Homo sapiens: one gene and its partner. The protein of the gene in region 1 purifies or fractionates together with the protein of each later gene. This does not show direct contact. Each region holds a gene or a part of one and is shown on either strand. Other genes may lie near its edges.

Region 1 (4,993 bases):
ATGGACACTGACAGATGATGATCACACAAAAAAATTATTTAATTACATCATGATCAATGCTACAAAGGGTAAGTAAGACTAGTAAAGTATGAAGCCATCTTACGATATCTTTGTTCCCTTTCTGTAGAACCCACTCAACAATATCAATCTGCCCCTTGACTTGTCATGTCCTAGCCACAGACAAGAAGGGCAAAGCCCTTTCTCCTTCTCCCATCCCTCACCAGAAAAAAGAAAAAACAGGACAAACATCAGCCATGATGAGGTGGCGGTGACATTCAGGACTACCCCAGAAGCTGTCCAATTCTGCTTGTCTGCTTTATCCCAAGACCCATGACAATGCTGGGCAATGTGCTCTGTCACCTACAAGTTCTTCCTGTCCCTACTTGAACAGACCAACAGACCCAGCAAAGCTTTTTCTTTTCTTTTTTTTCTTTTGTCCTTTTTTTGAGATGGAGTTTCGCTCTTGTCGCACAGGCTGGGGTGCAGTGGCGTGATCTCAGCTCACTGCAACCTCTGCCTCCCGGGTTCAAGCGATTCTTCTGCCTCAGCCTCCCAAGTAGCTGAGATTACAGGCATGCGCCACCATACGTGGCTAATTTTTTGTATTTCTAGTAGAGATGGGGTTTCGCCATGTTGGCCAGGCTGGTCTCAAACTCCTGACCTCAGGTGATCTGCCCGCCTTGGCCTCCCAAAGTGTTCTAATTAGAGGTGTGAGCCACTGCGCCTGGCCCAGCAAAGCTTTTTCTGTTGAGTCTGAACTACTCCACTCCAGAGAGCAGGAACTAAGAGAGAATATTCTCTCAGCCTGAACTGAGTGCTTGACTTCCAAAGCCAATGTGAGAAACCTTCTCTATCTTCGCCCACTCCCTGTTACATTTCCCTGTGTCGATCCCCTCAGGAGTACCATCAGCAAGTCTTGGTTTCTATTTCAGTCTCACCCCCTCCTGTGCCCCTCCAGCAGTTCTCTTCCCATGTTGCCCACCTAGGACTCTGATGCAGCCCCGACTCCTGCAATTCGACCTGCATTCTTCTCCCTGCACTACCTAAGGCAGGGCATAGGCACTGCACATCCCTCTGCCCCCCTACCATGAACATCAGGACTCAGATGATGAAAGCTTTAAAGCTTTTCTTTTCTTTCTTTTTTTTTTTTTTTTTGAGATGGAGTCTTGCTCTGTCACCCAGGCTGGAGTGCAGTGGCACGATCTCTGCTCACTGCAAGCTCCGCCTCCCAGGTTCACCATTCTCCTGCCTCAGCCTCCCAAGCAGCTGGGACTACAGGGGCCCGCCACCACGCCTGGCTAATGTTTTTTGTAGTTTGTTTAGTAGAGACAGGGTTTCACTGTGTTAGCCAGGGTGGTCTCGATCTCCTGACCTCATGATCTGCCCGCCTCCGCCTCCCAAAGTGCTGGGATTACAGGCGTGAGCCACCGCACCTGGCCAAAATCTTTAAAGCTTTTCTTTACACATCACCCCTGAAGCCAGAATCATGGTGGAGGCACCAAATGGCACGCTACGGTTGTGTCAAACGAAACCCTCCATCTCTTGAGTGCCAGATTCTGTGAAGCACTTCACATGCATTTATTATTTCAATTCAACCTTTACAAAAATCCTGTAAGAAATATCTGATGATTTCTCATTTTACCAATGAAGAAACTGAAGCTCAGGCCACTCAAGTTACTTGTCCAAAGTCACCAGCTGAATAAATGCAGAGCTGAGATGTGAACTCAAAGCTGGATTTGAAACCTGTGTCCCTTCTGCTACTGCATGCGGGAATAACGATGCACTATGTGGTTGCATCTTTGGAAAAGCTCAAGGTCAGAGTCTCCAAAGGATGCTGCTCCCACCTGGTGCTTCAAAGCAGCTGCTAAGGGTAGAGGAGCTTCCTCCTCCCTTCACGCTCCTCCCTCACACTCTTCCTACCAACTCTGCTGAAAGCAACGTCATGGACGCCAGTCTTGCCCGATGATCCCACAAGCTCACCAGGATGAAGCTTTAACCATAGCTTCATCCTAAACCACTGACCAGTTTAGAAAAACTATTTGTAGTCCCAGTCTGAGATAAACAGACCTCACCACCCAATTTCCAACCTCCAAACAAAACTAGACAAATCTGGGAGCCTTAGAGTGACGAGGACTGGCTCCGAAATGATGGGATCACAGAGCTCTCATCCCACTGGGAGTTGCCTTTTCTCTGCCTGGGTAGTGGCACAGGGAGAAAAATATCTTGTGCTGACCACTGGATTTAGACATCACGTGATGCTAGGAACTGGTGACATCTAGGTTCTGAAGAGGGCTGAGAAAGTGTTCTTCCCAGTCCTCTCATTATCTTTTCTAATTCATCTGAATCATCCGGCTGCCCATGTCCCAGCCCAGCCAGCATTCCCATCCCTCCCTCCTCCTGCCGCAGAGCAAGCCCCGGAAAAAGGGTCACTGCTATTCAGTGGTTTGGGGATGGCCAGTCCTCACTGCTCTTGTGTCTGGCTGAAGCAAGCAACTAACAGATGGCAGCGATGAGATGGCAGCCAAGCCCCGCCAGCAGTAATTAAGCCGAGCCAGGCTCCTCGTCGCCACCTCCCTAGGGATGGTCTCAATTGGCCTTTGATTAGGGCAGCCAGAATGAGACCTGGTCTGACCAGGGCCTCACAGAAGCGGGTTTGTGTGGCAGAGAACAGGTCTGCCACTGTCTGTTGCCTGCAGACACTGGGAACTTTGGAGGCCTTGACAGAGCAGCCGGGGACACTGCTCTGCCCCGGTACAGTACAGCCCAACAGCTGCCCCGCCAGCCAGTGCTAACTGAGTACCCAGTGAACGGGGAGCACTGGAAAATCACAAGGGAAGGATGTTGGGCTGCTGTTCGCCAGAGGATTTTCTCCAAGGCCAGCTGCTGAATGGAGGCACCCAGGCTGCTTTCTACAAATGCAGATTCTTCTGCTGATTTGGCATCCATGGGGCGGGTAGTGGCCTGGCATTCACTAAAACCTTTTAATTTTTTTTTAACCCATGTGCACACCGATAAAACATTTTCTTTTCTTTTTTTTCTTGAGCCAGGCTGGAGTGCAGTGGCGTGAACCCAGTTCACAGCAACCTCCACCTCCTGGGTCAAGCGATCCTTCTACCTCAGCCTCCCAAATAGCTGGGACTTCAGGTGTGTGCCACTATGCCTAGCTAATTTTTGTATTTTTTGTAGAGATGGGGTTTCACCATGTTGCCCAGGCTGGTTTTGAGCTCCTAGACTCAAGCAATCCTCCTGCCTCGGCCTCCCAAAGTGCTGGGATTACAGATGTGAGTCACTGCGCCCAGCCTGATAAAACCTTTTAAAATAGCTCCAGGCTCTTAGAAATGCACTGGGCATTCAGGTCCAAAGTAAGTTATAATATTTACCAACAAGGTATAAATAATTGCACAATAATATACACTGCAAACTGGAGAAAGCTCAGAGTACCTTGGTCAACCCCATGGGGTCCACAAGGTGCCATGAGAACAGGAGAGTGAAATCACCTCCTCCTCATCTCCACTCTTTGGGGTTTCCACAAATTTTCCACCGCTGAGATTTTTTTTCCCCATTCATTTTCATTTCTCCCTCCTCTGCTGCTTTCACAAAGCTACTTAGAGAGTGGGGATGGGGAAGAGGACTATGCTAGGCCTTCAAGTCCAGTAGCTCCCATCTTCCTAAGATCCTGTGGGGATCTTAAGACGGGTATAGCTTCCCTCATTTGATAAATGAGGAAAGTGAGGCTCAGAGAAGTCAAACTTGAATGACCTGCTTGGCCACTAGGATCTCCAAACAATGACTTGGAGTCACACTGCTTATGAATATGTCATTTCAAAAAACAGGTCCCCAATTCTCAGTCCAAGAGGATGAGTCACTTACTTGTAGGTTTTGGACCTATCCAGCCAGATTCCTGAGATCACAGCCCCAAGCATTCCTGCAATGACGATCGTCAGGCCAATTCTTCCAGCATTCACTTCTTCCCCCTGGGGAAACCATAACCCCAAAGATCACCCGGCGATGGGACAAGACCCAGGACAGAGCACAGTCACCATGGGGTGAAGGAACAAAGGCAGGTAACTCAAGCTCCATCAGAGTCAATATTCAGAACATATCGGGACAAGATGGCCTAGGAGAAAATTCTAGAATAACTACTCCTCCCAACAATATAACCCTGACTGTGTGTGCATGATATTGGATGCTGGAGTGACAAGGATGAACCAAATCTGTTCTTAGAACTACTTTTAGGCAAATTTTTTAAAAAATGTAAACCTCACAGCAACTCTTCTATCTTATCTGTCATTAATTCCATTTCACAGATGGGGAATTTAAAATATATATGTTAAAATTTCCATTCTTAGGTTTTTTTGAACTATCAATGCCAAGAGGAATGGAAAGATAATAGTTATATATTTTTGAGTGCTTACTATAAGCCAGGCACCATGCCTAAGGTTTTATATCATTATCTCATTTACTCCTCGCCATTCCCCATCATAAGGTTAGGAGTCAGTCTTCTCCATTTTGCAGATGAAGAAACAGGCACAATGAAATTAACCTACTAGCCCAAGGTCACAAGGCATATGTTAAGTTCAAAGCTAGGATCTGAACTCAGGCCTTTGAACTCCAAAACTAGGACACTTAGCCATATAGTCTACCCCTTCTGCAAGTGTGAGAGCCTAGTCCTTTCAAAAGAGGGTTGCATCTCCGTATTCCTGACTCCAGGCCACTCAGTATTCCATTCCCAGCATCCAGCCCAGCCCTCGTGGGTTCTGGAAACATTTAAATTCAGAAATATTTTATATATATATTTGCCAACAGTGTTGCCAGGCACTATGCTGTATAATAAATACATGTATCACATATAATTATGTATACATACACAAGCGTCATTATTTACTCTCTGATCCTAAAAAGAACCTTGCAAGAAGCAATTATGCTTCTTTTGCAGAAAAAAAAAAAAATGAGAGCTCAGAAACACTAACTAGCTTGTCACACTGTCAAGCCA
Region 2 (3,500 bases), on another chromosome or scaffold:
GTATTTCTCCTCACAAATGGTGAATATCAACTCCAGGATGGCTGGAGTTTTCTCATGGTTTGGTTCCACGCCATCTGCATGTCTTTACAAGTGATAAAAACCAGAATTTTCCAGCTGCTACTAGTCACAGGGGGTCCCCAATATGGGTTGTTTAATTATGATGACGGGTCCTGTCAATTGCATCCAGTAAAATTGGTCACATAGAGAACTCATCTAAAACTGAGGTTTTGTTGTGGTTTTGAAAGGTCCATTGGAATCCAGATTTGCAAAGCATGTCAAGTTATGGCAAAACATATGCCACCCATCTCAAAATCTTTCCTTATTATTGCATAACTTTGAAAGCCACTGTTGCGTTTGTTGCGATGAGGTTAGAGTTTTGTTGACATGATGATATTACTCTCTTCCTCTGGGTGAGACACATCTGGATTCTCACTTGGAGCAGGGCTCTGTACATCCTTCTGGGATTTGGTTGAGTAGGTAATATACATGCTTCTCATTAGGAAAATTCCAGCAATTACTGCAAAATAGCTCCCATAAACTAAAAACTGGAGAAAAACAAATAATTAGCCACATATAAAATATGACCATCTATGTCAATGATAATACATCCTAATACTGTTGGTTTGCTTGGATTATGGGGTAACTGAGACCCAGGTTTTTAATATGGGTCATTTAGGTTGAACAATACTCTCCTATCAAGTAAGAAATCAAGATCAAGTAAGAAGGTGTAAGCAATACGGTGACTAAGAGTCTTGGCTTTAGAGCAGGTTGCTTGGGTTAAAATCATAGTTACTATCATCAATAGTAAAAAACAAAACAAAACAAACCCAAAAAAACACTAAAACTCATTGACCTGTCTCTATGTCTTTGTTTGGAGGCTGGTGCAATGCTACATTCAATGTCTCCAAGAATAAATTTAAGCATTGAGGTTACTTCTTACCTGCCTTATCCATGTAAATGTTGTCCTAGTTGCAATTATTGCTCAAAACCTACTTGGTGTGTTATAATATGATAATGAAGGAATTATGTATTTTTTAATTGCTTAACCAAGGAACTCAAGAAATTTAAATATTGCTTGTTGTAAGGTTGAGAAATTTTTGAGGTTACCTAGTTGAAAACAGAAGTATTGCAGCTTACCTGAATGCTGACTGGCAAGTTGAGCCCTCTCTGATCTACTACAATCACAGTCATGATGGTCTGAATCACCAAGGCAATAAAGGTGTTGATTCCAAATACCAAGGCATAGCGTTCCACATTCAGATTAACTGCAATCTGAAATCTATCATTAAACATAAATAAGCATTTTAACTATAATATACATGGATGGAAGTCTTAAAAAGATAGAACATATTGGCCACAGGGGTATTTGTGTCACCCACCTCCAGCTCCAGGTAGTCCAGCAAAGAGAGAGAGAGACTGTCTGGAAGAAAGTAAAGGAAAAGAACAAGTGTCTCTGTCTGGTAATCCAGAGAATTCTTCTGGATCTTATCCAAGACCACCAAAGCAGTAGCTCTAAGAGTCTGCTAGAACCACAGTGTTACTGGGCTTGGGGTGCTCCCTAATGTAGATACAGTTTAGATCACAACACCCAAATCCTTCTGAATACCTGGAAAGCCTTCCCACGGAGGACAGGTACAAAAAAGCCCAGACAGCAAAGACTACAATAAATACAACTCTTCAATACCCTGACACTGATGAACATCCATAAGCATCAAGATCATCCAGGAAAACGTTCTCACCAAACAAACTAAATAAGGCACCAGGGACCAATCCTGGAGAAACATATACGACCTTTTAGACACAGAATTCAAAATAGCTGTGTTAAGAAAACGCAAAGAAATTCAAGATAACACAAAGAAGGAATTCAGAATTCTGTCAGATAAATTTAATAAAGAGATTGAAATAATTAAAAAGAATCAAGCAGAAATGCTGTGGTTGAAAAATGCAATTGACATACTGAGAATGCATCAGAATCTCATACCAGCAGAACTGATCAAGCAGAAGAAATAATTAGCAAGCTTGAAGACAAGCTATTTAAAAATACAGTCAGGAGACAACAGAAAAAAGAAGAATGAGGCACACCTACAATACCTAGAAAACAGCCTCAAAAAGGAAAATCTAAGTTATTGGCCTTAAAGAGGAGGTAAAGAAATAGATAGAGGTAGAAAGTTTATTCAAAGGGATAATATCAGAGAGCTTCCCAAACCTAAAGAGATCAATATCCAAGGACAAGGTTACAGAACACCAAGCAGATTTAACCCAAAGAAGACTACTTAGAGGTATTTAATAATCAAACTCCCAAAGGTTAAGGATAAAGAAAGGATTCTAAAAGGAGCAAGAGAAAGGAAATAAATAACATACAAGAGAGCTCCAATGTCTGGCAGCAGTCTTTTCAGTAGAAATTTTAGAACCAGGGAGTGGCATGACATATTTAAAGTGCTGAAGGAGAAAAACTTTTACCCTAGAATAGTATATCCAGTGAAAATATCAAACCCGAAGGAGAAATAAAGACCATCCCAGACAAATAGAAGCTGAGGGATTTCATCAACACCAGACCTGTCCTACAAGAAATGCTGAAGGGAGTACTTCCATCTCTAAGAAAAGGACGTTCATGCGCAATAAGAAAACATGTAAAGGCACAAAACTCACTTGTAATAATAGGTACATAGAACAACACAGAATATTATCACACTGTAACTGGGGTATGTAAACTACTCTCATAAGTAGAAAGACTAAAAGATGAACCAATCAAAAATAGTAACTACAAATTTTCAAGACAAATAGTACAATAAGATATAAAGAGAAACAACAAAAAGTTAAAAAGCAGGAGGACAAAGCTACACTGTAGAGTTTTTATTAGTTTTCTTTTTGCTTGTTTGTTTATGCAAATAGTCTTAAGTTGTTATCAGCTTAAAATAATGGGTTATAAGATAGTATTGCAAGCCTCATGGTAATCTCAAATTGAAAAACATGCAATGGATACCCAAAAAGTAAAAAAGAAATTAAATTATATCACCAGAGAAAATCACCTTCACTAAAAGGAAGAAAGAAAAGGAAAAACACTGCAAAACCAGAAAAGAAATAACAAAATAACAGGAGTAAGTCCTTACTTATCAATCTAAACTCTTCAAAAGAGAGTGGTTGAATGGATTTTTAAAAAGACCCAATGACCTGTTGCCTACAAGAAAGACATTTTACCTATAGAGACATACATAGACTGAAAATGAAGGGATGGACAAAGATATGCCATGCCAATGGAAACAAACAAAAAAAGAGGACTTGTAGCTATACATATAGCAGAGAAAATACATTTCAAGACAGAAACTGTAAGAGACACAGGTCATTAAACAATGATAAAAGGGTCAATTCAGCAAGAGAATATAAAAATTGTAAATACGGCCAGGCGCGGTGGCTCATGCCTGTAATCCCAGCACTTTGGGAGGCCGAGGTGGGCAGATCATGAGGTCAGGAGATCAAGGCCATCCTGGCTAACACGATGA

The links. Proteins that work in one complex are often made in the same cells at the same time.
Region 2: the proteins of FLVCR2 (region 1) and SLC19A3 fractionate together in Homo sapiens (co-fractionation; one large-scale study listed by BioGRID). This does not show direct contact.

Annotation. Positions count from the first base shown.
Region 1 is NC_000014.9:75,633,891-75,638,883, reverse strand, and holds part of FLVCR2 (choline/ethanolamine transporter FLVCR2), read right to left. Parts: intron 3,975-4,993; coding exon 3,871-3,974; intron 1-3,870. UniProt on the Homo sapiens protein: Choline uniporter that specifically mediates choline uptake at the blood-brain-barrier. Responsible for the majority of choline uptake across the blood-brain-barrier from the circulation into the brain.
Region 2 is NC_000002.12:227,687,029-227,690,528, forward strand, and holds part of SLC19A3 (thiamine transporter 2), read right to left. Parts: intron 1,280-3,500; coding exon 1,138-1,279; intron 546-1,137; coding exon 369-545; 3' UTR 1-368. UniProt on the Homo sapiens protein: Mediates high affinity thiamine uptake, probably via a proton anti-port mechanism. Has no folate transport activity. Mediates H(+)-dependent pyridoxine transport.